Homo sapiens: one gene and its partners. The gene in region 3 interacts genetically with the main gene of each other region. Each region holds a gene or a part of one and is shown on either strand. Other genes may lie near its edges. The genes, in order: SEC22B, BNIP1 and WDR7.

The links.
Region 1: changes in WDR7 (region 3) and SEC22B together harm fitness more than expected from each alone (negative genetic interaction), as found in Homo sapiens cells (one large-scale study listed by BioGRID).
Region 2: changes in WDR7 (region 3) and BNIP1 together harm fitness more than expected from each alone (negative genetic interaction), as found in Homo sapiens cells (one large-scale study listed by BioGRID).

Annotation. Positions count from the first base shown.
Region 1 is NC_000001.11:120,155,981-120,159,635, forward strand, and holds part of SEC22B (vesicle-trafficking protein SEC22b), read right to left. Parts: intron 1,213-3,655; coding exon 1,058-1,212; 3' UTR 1-1,057. UniProt on the Homo sapiens protein: SNARE involved in targeting and fusion of ER-derived transport vesicles with the Golgi complex as well as Golgi-derived retrograde transport vesicles with the ER.
Region 2 is NC_000005.10:173,151,031-173,154,685, forward strand, and holds part of BNIP1 (vesicle transport protein SEC20), read left to right. Parts: intron 1-535; coding exon of another isoform or gene 536-664; intron 665-3,291; coding exon 3,292-3,383; intron 3,384-3,655. UniProt on the Homo sapiens protein: As part of a SNARE complex may be involved in endoplasmic reticulum membranes fusion and be required for the maintenance of endoplasmic reticulum organization. Also plays a role in apoptosis.
Region 3 is NC_000018.10:56,657,762-56,661,416, reverse strand, and holds part of WDR7 (WD repeat-containing protein 7), read right to left. Parts: intron 1-3,655.

The DNA of each region.
Region 1 (3,655 bases), on a different chromosome or scaffold from region 3:
TTGATCTGCAAAAACTTTAACTTTAATTAACTACATAGATGAATATTTTTTATTTTGAAATTTGAGAATGTCCTAAGAGGATGTCTACAGGATATGAAACTACTGGGTGCAGGAAAATTTTTTAAATGTTAGCAAATTGTGGCAAGAGGAAAACAAACAGTGGAGAAAACTGTGGTAGAGAAAGTAAAGAAGGGGCAGGAGAAAGCTGTAATTATAACCTGGGCCTGCCTTTGTTCTCATGAAGCCAGGGGCCTCTCCATATCCTATACTTGCTCTTACGCTAATAACAAACCAAATGCTGCAAAATAAAAGTAATAATGACCCAAACTAATTTAAGTCTTTTGTTTAAGGAGTAAATGAGAGAAACATTTTAGCTTCTTAATCAAGGAGTGCTATAATTTCAAGGCATCTTAATATAATTCACTTACCCTAAAGCAATTGTGCAATAAGCAAATTATAAAAGGAAAACAACAAAGGTTAACTTTCTACAGGGGCCAATAGACAAGATCTGTGGAGCACAGCAATTAACCTTCACATACTGGAGTCTTGTTTAAAAGGCCATCAAAAACTCAGATTACTGAAAATCACAAATGTCACCAACAAAAGGAATGTTGATTAGAGTCAAAAAAAAAAAAAAAAAAAAAAACACCTTCCCAAAGGACTGCCTTCTTTGAAGGAATTTCAGAATGTTGCTAGCACAGGTTGACTAAGTTAAATCTCATTGATGGCTCCATCAGAGAATGAGAATGCCCCAGCCAGTGCTGTTTTTAAAATGCACTGGGAGGGAAAAAACGAAATTAACAATCTACTATTCCCTAATATATATGGCTTGGCACCCAGAGAAAGCCTCTGCCCCCGAAAGAGACTTTCTACATAGGGTTAAGCTTCATTAAATGAGGTGCAACCTTTCATTTTCAGGGCATCTCTTTTCTTGCAAGGTCTTTAGAGGCAGAAGTTCCACTTGGATTCTAATACACATCTCTGTGAGCTCAGTTTCCTGAAAATATACACCTACTGGGTTCTAGGTTCTCCCTTACCAGTGACTGTATTCATTATTTCACAGCCACCAGAATCGGACATACACTATTAACATGATGAAAAATACAGCTACTGCTGCAAGTTTGGCATAAGTGGAACGCATGTTCAAGTACTTCGCATCCTGGCGGTATTTCTTGGACAGACTGGACAAATTGTTAGCCTTTGAATCCAATGCTGTCAAAGAGGAAAAAAGGAAAACATTAATTAGTCCCTGGAAGTATTTTACCGAAAGTATTAAGGCAAACCAAAATGAGCAGCACTGCAACAACCATGAATCTTAAATCATCATTTTTATTTTAAGGCTAACATTGCATATACTAATTAACTGATGATGCTGATCAGATGATGTCTGAATTTTTGAGGCTATATAGTAAGGTGGTTAGAAGTGCAGGTTCTGGCCTCAGACTCTTTGGTTCAGATATCACCTGTACAAGTTATGTGACATTGGTCAAGTCATGTAACCTATTTAAAACCTAGTTTCTTCATCTATAATTGGGGATAATAACAGTAACTATGTCATAAAGTTGTATGTACATGAGATTGCCTGTAAAGTGAGCAACAATGCCTGCACATGATAAATTATAATAATTATTACATGTTAATAATTATTATCTTCATAATCTTCTAATGGTCTGAATCATATTCTCTTATATTTTGAAAAACGATAATGATAACCCATGTAAAACAAACTCAGATAACCAGAAAATTCAATTAACCAAACACAGTCTTAAGCTATACTTCAATGATGACTGCTAACATTTCTAAGATTCTCCACATAGTAGAGACTACTATGAAGTTAAAGCTATCAGGATTTATATTTCAATAGACATAGGAAAGTTGTAACTAAAATACAATAAGTACTACAAAAAAAAACGCAAGTAAATTAAGCTTTTTAGTATTTTCTGGCAAGTTTTTTCACCCCCAAGGACATTTGTAATGTTGTTATCTTCTTATAACAGTTAACTAAACACTTAGAGAAATAGCCAGATAGACACAAGCTAGACCATATTAAAATATAAGGCATATTTTAATAATAAACACAAACTCTCCATTTGACATAATAAATTCTGATCAAACTTTTCACTTCTTGAAATTTCAGAAAAAACTATTTTGCAATCCGGTTGTTTCTTCCTTAAAGAATGCTTTTGGAATATTTGGAGTTGCTTAATAGAGACTGGTTTTGATTGGGAAACATGGCGTTACTTAATAACACAGGCATGACAGCCACGTCTGAATTAGCAACTGATCACATGAGTAAGAAAAACATCTAGTCACGGAAGAAGAGTCAGGGACTGAGAAACAACCATGACAATGCACAGGGCATCTTTTTACAGAGCCTACAAGAATATACACTTCACTGGACAGGGATTTTAAATTATTGTGTTTGCTGCTATATCCTGAATGCCCAGAACAGGGCCTGGTATATAGTTAGTGCTCAATAAACATTTGCTAAATGAATCTAAATCTGCTGAGAATAACTCAGCAGAGGAACAATTATTAGACCCTATGAAACAAGTCATAGTTGAGAGAATTTATATATGAACGTTTTGAAATACAGGATAACATAAAGACAAAGCTATTGCTTGGAGAAGTCATTTAACAAATATTTATGTGACAGGCACCATGTGAAGTGCTGAGGATACAACAGTGATCAAAATATACATGATCCCTGCCTTTAAGGAATTTAGAGTCTTGCATGAGTGATACAAGAAAAATTCCTGTGCTAGTCTACTTTATCCCATATAGGAATTGCAAGTCTGTATGACAAAACCTTACACACTCACTCACTCAAAATTTGGTATTTAAAGAGTGTGAAGGTAAATGAATAACTGCTCACTACTCAAAAAAAGGTTAAAGTTTGTAGTTCATAATAAAAGAAAACTCACTTACTAATGAATATATAGCATGGCTGAATTCAAAAATACTTATTAAGGAACCTATTTGTGACCATTTCTGTGGGGGATATATAAGGAGTATGTGAAACAGATATAAAATACATAAGCACTATCTTTAAAGAGCTTACATGTCCACATTAAACACTTAGGTAATATTTAAATATCAGGTAAATATACATATACTTTTAACCTAATTTTACCTAATTACCTACACTTTTAAAATTATATAAAGGGCTGGGTGTTGTGGCTCATGCCTGTAATCCCAGCACTTTGGGAAGCTGAAGTGAGTGGATTGCTTGAGCCCTGGAGTTTGTGACCAGCCGGAACAACATGGCAAAACCCCATCTCTACTAAGAAAATACAAAAATTAGCCAGGCGTGGTGGCACATGCCTGTAGCCCCAGGTACTCAGGAGGATAAGGTGGGAAGATCGCTTGAACCCAGGAGATGGTGGTTGCAGTGAGCCAAGATCGTGCCATTGCACTCCAGCCTGGGCAACAGAACAAGACTCTGTCTCAAAAAAATATACGAAATTATATAAAAATATTTAATTATCCAAATATGTTTGCCTACTTTAATATAAATATATGAAATATATACTTATGTTATATGGAAATATATTTAATATATATTAAATATATATTTAATATGGTAAGAGGTATTTAATAAATATATTTAAGGTAAATTAGGTAAACACACATACATGTAATATGTGCTAAAACC
Region 2 (3,655 bases), on a different chromosome or scaffold from region 3:
TTCACCGTGTTAGCCAGGCTGGTCTCGATCTCCTGACTTTGTGATCAGCCTGCCTCAGCCTCCCAAAGTGCTGGGATTACAGGCGTGAGCCACCGCGCCCGGTCAAAACTTATACTGTTAAGTATAATTTTATTATACGTATATTGGAAATTTTTCCATTTCAGTAATCAGAGACTGTCCTCATTTTTCTTTTTTTTTCTTTTTTTGAGACAGGGTCTTGGGCTGTCACCCAGGCCAGAGTGCAGTGGCACAATCTCAGCTCACCACAGCCTTGATTTCCCAGGCTCAAGCGATTTTCCTCCTGCCTCAGTCCCCCAAATAGTTGGGACTACAGGCGTGCGCCACCACACCCAGCAAATTTTTGTAGTTTTTATAGAGACAGGGTTTTGCCATGTTGCTCAGGCTGGACTTGAACTCCTGGACTCAAGTGATTGCCTGCCTCAGCCTTCCAAAGTGTTGGGATTACAGGCAGGAGCCACCACACCTGGTCTCTCATTCTTTTCTAAATAACTGTCATTTTTTTTTTTTTTTTTAGCCAGTTCTCTATCAAAGGGCATTTATTTGGACTGCTTCCACATTTTTTTTTAAGCTAACTTATTCCCTGACAGACTTTTCTTCAACTCAGCATGACTTCAACTCTCCAACTACACCTGTTACCTTCAGTGTGAGTATTTGTATGTTCTTTTTAAACATCTGGGTGCCCACCCAGTGTTTATTTCCTTCACTCATTAAAATGACCTCACCAATACGTGTACATTTACATATTTATTATGGCACCTAGGAAGGACCTAATAAGCACATGGCCAGTAAATGAATAACCCCATCCCAGTTTTAATCTGCGTTTCTTAAGTATTTACATACTCTTTTTGTATCTGGAAATAAATACAAGATTCCTGTTTGTTTGCCATTTTTAGCTTTTATTTGAATGTCTTTTTTGTGTATTTCCAACAAGATCATGTGATACTAGAGAACTGGCCTCATATCCTCAAAACTGGGTGTTCTGCACATGGTGAATCTTGGGCACTGACTGTGTATAAATATCTGTGTGTTTGTCTTTGTACATATAGCTCTCAAACTGGAATTTGAGGACTGCTCTCCCCCGCCATTCCTTTCTCCAGAACTATCACTGGTTCTCTTTGAAAGAACTTCCAGGCAATCTTTCATGAGTAAATTGTACATTTCTCCCCCTTTTTAATCCCTCCGCTTTTCCCATGCGTTCATTCTTCCATTCAGTGACTCAGTGCCCAGTATGTGCCAGGCACAAGGAATATATGTAGTGAATAATGTGAGATACAGCTCTGCTTATTCATAGAATTTACATTCTTTTTTTTTTTTTTGAGACGGAGTCTCACTCTGTTGCCCAGGCTGGAGTGCAGTGGCACGATCTCGGCTCACTGCAATCTCCACTTCCCGGGTTCACGCCATTCTCCTGCCTCAGCCTCCCGAGTACCTGGGATTACAGGCGCCCGCCACCACGCCTGGCTAATTTTTTGTATTTTTAGTGGAGACGGGGTTTCACCGTGTTAGCCAGGATGGTCTTGATCTCCTGACCTCGTAATCTGCCTGCCCTGGCCTCCCAAGGTGCTGGAATTATAGGCGTGAACCACCAGGCCCAGCCCATAGAATTTACATTCTAATAGGGAATACAGATTTTAAACAAATAATTATGAAAATAATTGATGACATTTGCAAAACTTTTCTAATTCACAGTTGATTATTTCTTTTATTCTCTACCTCAGCAATATTTGGAGGCATAAATTGAAAGTCATCTCTGTGCTATTGAAATGGTGGATACACAAACTTGTTCCAAACCAGTATGTGCAAATTGATACGTAAATCAGTAAATTAGTATATAAATGAGCAAATACATTGATGTTTCAGATCAATAGCGTGATTGAAGCTAGAACCTGTTTTAATTTGTAAACCAAAAAATGTGATTGGTATAATGCTATCTTTAATTATAGTCCCTCTTGATGGTTCTTTTATCTGAAGTTCTTGGGGTTTAATACTTCTGGGTATGTCTGCTGACCCTAACTTATAGTGGGTTATTTCCTTGGTGTTAGGTTATTTTGGACTGTGAGCGCTCATCTTAGCAGACCTTATCTGAGGGACTTTGTGCAGCTGGGTCGAGGCCAAGTCTCTACAGAGGTTTTTGCATTAGCTTCCCGCCAGGTCTCCTGAGATGATCACAAGTCTGACAACATTTTTTTTTTTTTTGAGACAGTCTCTCTCTGTCGCCCAGGCTGGAGTGCAGTGGCGCAGTCTTGGCTTGCTGCAAGCTCTGCCTCCCGGGTTCACGCCATTCTCCTGCCTCAGCCTCCTGAGTAGCTGGGACTACAGGTGCCCGCCACCACGCCCGGCTAATTTTTTGTATTTTCAGTTGAGATGGGGTTTCACCATGTTAGCCAGGATGGTCTCGATCTCCTGACCTCGTGATCTCCCCGCCTCGGCCTCCCAAAGTGCTGGGATTACAGGCGTGAGCCACTGCGCCCGGCCGAGAACACTGTTTATGTTCATTTCTCTTCATGGAGTTTCACGAACCACTCAGGGAAGATAAATTGAACCCTAGATCAGTGGAAGGAGCAGCTCCCTGGTTGGTTATAAATTCTCAGGGGAGTTTTTTTTTAACCCCTCTATTTGGAACTCATAGCAAAAAAAGGCAAGCATCTATGTTTTCCCTCTGTGCTGGTAGATGGACATTTTTTTATACCATTTTCCTGTGTCTGTAACCTTTCGTGGGTTTTAGATTTGTGGTGATCTCAGTTCAGCTTCTCAACCTCAGCCTCAGATGGCTCAGGGCTTCATTTTTCTGTCCCTGCACGAGCTCTCAAACCTTCAAGCGCTCAAACTGCCTATTACTCGTCTTTAATTAAATAGGCACAGAAATTGTGAGTATCTGGAAATGAACAGCAGTTTGATATTTTAATGATATCTAAGTGGGGGATCAGTGTGCTTGTATTTCGTCATTGTTTTTCTTTTCCTTTCGGGCCTGCCCTAGGTGACAGGAGCAGCAGCTCTGACGCCAGGACAGCCGTGCATCACTCCCAGGCTGACTATTCCAGCTCTTGTTCCCTTCCCACTTTTGGGCCATAGGGGTTTTCCTTACTTCCTTGTGGACTTAGCTATAGATTTAAAAGGATGTGTGTTATATGTTACCTAGCATTCCTAGGTGTTCTGTTTTAAAAGGGTGCTTCAAGTGCTATTGTATGCCCTTGGCAGAAATAGAAATGCTCTTCTGCTTTCATGTTGACTTTTGAAATCATTTTAACATGGAATTATTTTTCCTCAAAGGACCTGGAGCAGTTGGCTAAAGAGCAAGACAAAGAATCAGAGAAACAACTTCTACTCCAGGAAGTGGAGAATCACAAAAAGCAGATGCTCAGGTAGGCAGGGCCTGCCCCCGCCAGCGGCTTCTGCTGGCTCTTCTTGTTGCCTGTGAGCCTTGCACGTGTGTTTGCCTGATGGATCTGCTTTAATGCTGACTTAATGGTGTCTTTTTTTTTTTTTTGAGAGACGGTGTCTCGCTCTATTGCCCAGGCTGGAGTGCAGTGGCCTGATCTTGGCTCACTGTGACCTCTGCCTCCCGAGTTCAAGCAATTCTTCTGCCTCAGCCTCCTGAGTAGCTGGGATTACAGGCGCCCACCATCACGCCTGG
Region 3 (3,655 bases):
GGCATATAAATCATGTTTTAAATTTCTGCAGGTGATATTATAATGAATGAACTCTTCTGCTTATGCTGTATCCATCACCAACCTACAGCAATTTCAAGAGTTACTGATTAAGCTAAAAGCCCATTATGCCCACCAAGACCTTACTTTTTAAAGGAAATTCCATTTGGTTGAACCAACTTCGACTTTCTCCTGCCACCCACCTCTAATCTCATTTGCATCTCCAGTCATTCCAATTTCTTCCCTTAGGTTGCCATCAAAAGTCTAAACTGAGCACTGAACTTTCTCGTTGTATATAAATTGAATTAAACAGAAAAAGAAGAAACAAACATGCTTCCCCAAATTTGAAGCTGAATTGTCACATTAGTCTTGGAATCACTAAAATAAGATGGGCAACTGTGAAGGTATGAAAGTCACACTAACTAGAGAGGAACCCAGCTCTCCATTTCCATTTTAAACTCTGAGGAAATATGTGATGTCTCAAGTTAAACTTCTCATTTGTAACATTACCCTCCTCCTGCTCTGCCTGTCACAAAAACTGCCCTTGACAAGGTCACCAATGACCTCCCCACTGTTAAATCCATTATCAAGTTCTAACCCTTATCTTACTTGACCTACCAGCAATTTGACATAGTTCATATTCCGTCTTTGAAATAAATACTTCTTTACCTGGCCTCAAAGTCTTCACTTTTTCCTGACTTTCCTTCTTCTTCTCTAGCTTTAGTCTCCTTTCTTTCTTTTCTTTCTTTTTTTTTTTTTTTAACCTTTAAATATTGGCATTCCCACAACTTAGTCCTTAGACTTCTCTTCTCTGGCAACACTCCCTCCCTCAATGATCTCATCAAGCCTCATTGCTTTAAACCATCTATAGGTTGAGTATCCTTTATCTGAAACACTTGGGATCAGAAGTGTTTTAGATTTTGGATTTTTTTCAAATTTGGGGATATTTGTATTATACTTACAGGTTGAGCATCTCTAATCTGAAAAATCTAAAATGCAAAATGCTCCAATGAGCATTTCTTTGGAGTGTCATGTTTATGCTCAAGAGTTTTGGATTTTGGAGCATTTTGGATTGCAGATTTTGACAGTTCCCCAGTTTATTGTGTGGGATGCTTTTCTGAAATCCAAATCAGTATGTCCAGCTTCCTACTCAACATCTCCTTTTGGATAGCTAATAAGTTTCTCAAACTTGGCATGTCCAAAAGTGAGCCCCTGATCATTCCTCAATGGTGCCCCTCCCACAGTCTACCCATCTTAGTTATTGGCAACTCCAGTTTTATAGCTACACAGACCAAAATCCTAGAATCATCTTTAGTTACTCTATTACTCTCTCACACATACACATTCCACATCCCAATCCATCAGTAAACTCCACTGGCTATACCTTCAAATCATATCCAGAATCCTGCAACATCTCAACACTTTCACTACAACCACCCTATTCTCAATCAGCATCTTCCATCAGGGATAACACAACAGCCCTCTAACTGGTCTCCCTGTTTCCATCTTTGCTCCCCTGCAGTCTCAACACAGCATATAGAGTGACACTATTAAAAAAAAAAATCATGCTGTGATCACATCTCAAAATCTTCCAATGGCTTCCTGTCTCACACATAGCAAAAGCCAACTCTACATACAACTGCCTATCCTATATGAGTGAGGTGGTTGTTCTCTCCCTTGCTTACTCTTTTCCATCTGCTCTGATTCATTGGTGTTGCTCAAAGATACTAAACAGAATCTTACCTCAGAACAGTGTCCCCCACCCCAGATTCCTTCTGGCACACTCCTTTGCCCTCTTCAAATCTCTATAAAATATTACCTTTTTAGTGAAGAGTTTCCTGACCATCATAAATTGCAAAATCTACCACTCAAACTAAACACTTACAATCATTTAACATACCATATGTTTTATTTATTTATCATCTGCCTCTCCTGGTGTATGTTCTATGATGGTAAAGATCTGTGTTTGGTTTCTTCTCTATTGTATTCCCAGTGCCTAAAATTCCTTCCACATAGAAGGAATCCAAATACTTGAATAAATAAACAAACTAGTGAATGAAATATGTTTGCGTTGGTTTAAGTAAAGTTGCACCCATCAGCAAATTAAAGTATATCCCGATTTTATATGTTTTGGATTTCACAGGGCAGTTTCTTGTCAACTAGTTCTTCTATAATAATGTCAACAATTAATACAAGCCTCCTTAATCAAAATGTCATTAACATATTGTTTTTTTCCCCAGCTACAGGTTTTACCTACGCTCCTGCCTCTTTTAGTCTATCGTGACATATACACAGCAAAATATATCTTAGGGCCTATGAAGCAAATTAGCTGACATAATCACTACTACAGTCACTAAGGCCTAGTAATTAATCACAACACTGTTTCTTAAAAGTAAGTACAGGGGGCCGGGCGCGGTGGCTCAAGCCTATAATCCCAGCACTTTGGGAGGCCAAAGCTGGCAGATCACAAGATCAGGAGTTCAAGACCAGCCTGGCCAACATGGTGAAACCCCATCTCTACTAAAAAAAAAATACAAAAATTAGCTGGGCACAGTGGTGCACGCCTGTAGTCCCAGCTACTCAGGAGGCTGGGGCAGGAGAATCGCTTGAACCCAGGAAGTGGAGGTTGCAGTGAGCCAAGATCATGCCACTGCACTCCAGTCTGAGCAACAGAGTGAGACTCTGTCGTTAAAAAAAAGTAAGTAAGTACAGTGATATTTCATTCGTGTGAATTTTTTGCTCCAACTAATGGAAGTTTATACTGTTTATTTGTATTTGAAACATTTAGAAAAAAGAAGAGCCTTTAAGGAAGATAGCTTAAATGTGAAATAAACTTGAATGTGAAAACAGAAGGTAACTGGCTCACTCTATCAGTCTGTTATCACTGACATATACCAACTACCAACATTCAGAGAGAAACATGATGTGCAAAAAACTATCTTCAGTGAGCTTGTAGGGTCATAAATTACAACTGCTAAGCTGAATGGGAGACTGCATTTTCAAAGTCATGTATTTCCAGGCTGGGCGCAGTGGCTCATGACTAATTCCAGTACTTTGGGAGGCCGAGGCAGGCAGATCACTTGAGGTCAGGAGTTTGAGACCAGCCAGGCCAACATGGTGAAACCCTGTCTCTAATAAAAATACAAAAATTAGTTGGGTGTGGTGGTGCACACCTGTAATCCCAGCTACTTGGGAGGCTGAGGCAGAAAAATTGCTTGAACCGGGGAGGCAGAGGTTGCAGTGAGCCGAGATCATACCACTGCACTCTAGCCTGGGCGACAGAGCGAGATTCTGTGTCAAAAACAAAACAAAACAAAAAAACAAAGTCACATATCTCCAGAAATGTTATATTTTAAAGAGCCTACAGAATAACGCTTAGCACTTCAGAAATCTTCCCTCCCCTAAACTGACCAGTGCCCTAACATTCGTTGTTCCAACATTTTATGGCTCCCACTAACTCAAGTAATCAACAGCCAAAAAAAAAAACCCCTGTAATTTCATTAAACGTCACCAACATAGTTTGAAAAAAAATCCAATTTTATTTAAAATAGTAAATACTTCATGAATGTAATATATATGTTCCTTAATAGAAAGGAAGTAAAAATTTCCTTGGACTCACAAGGACTTTCTGAATGCAGTCATGATGTAGGATTTCTTC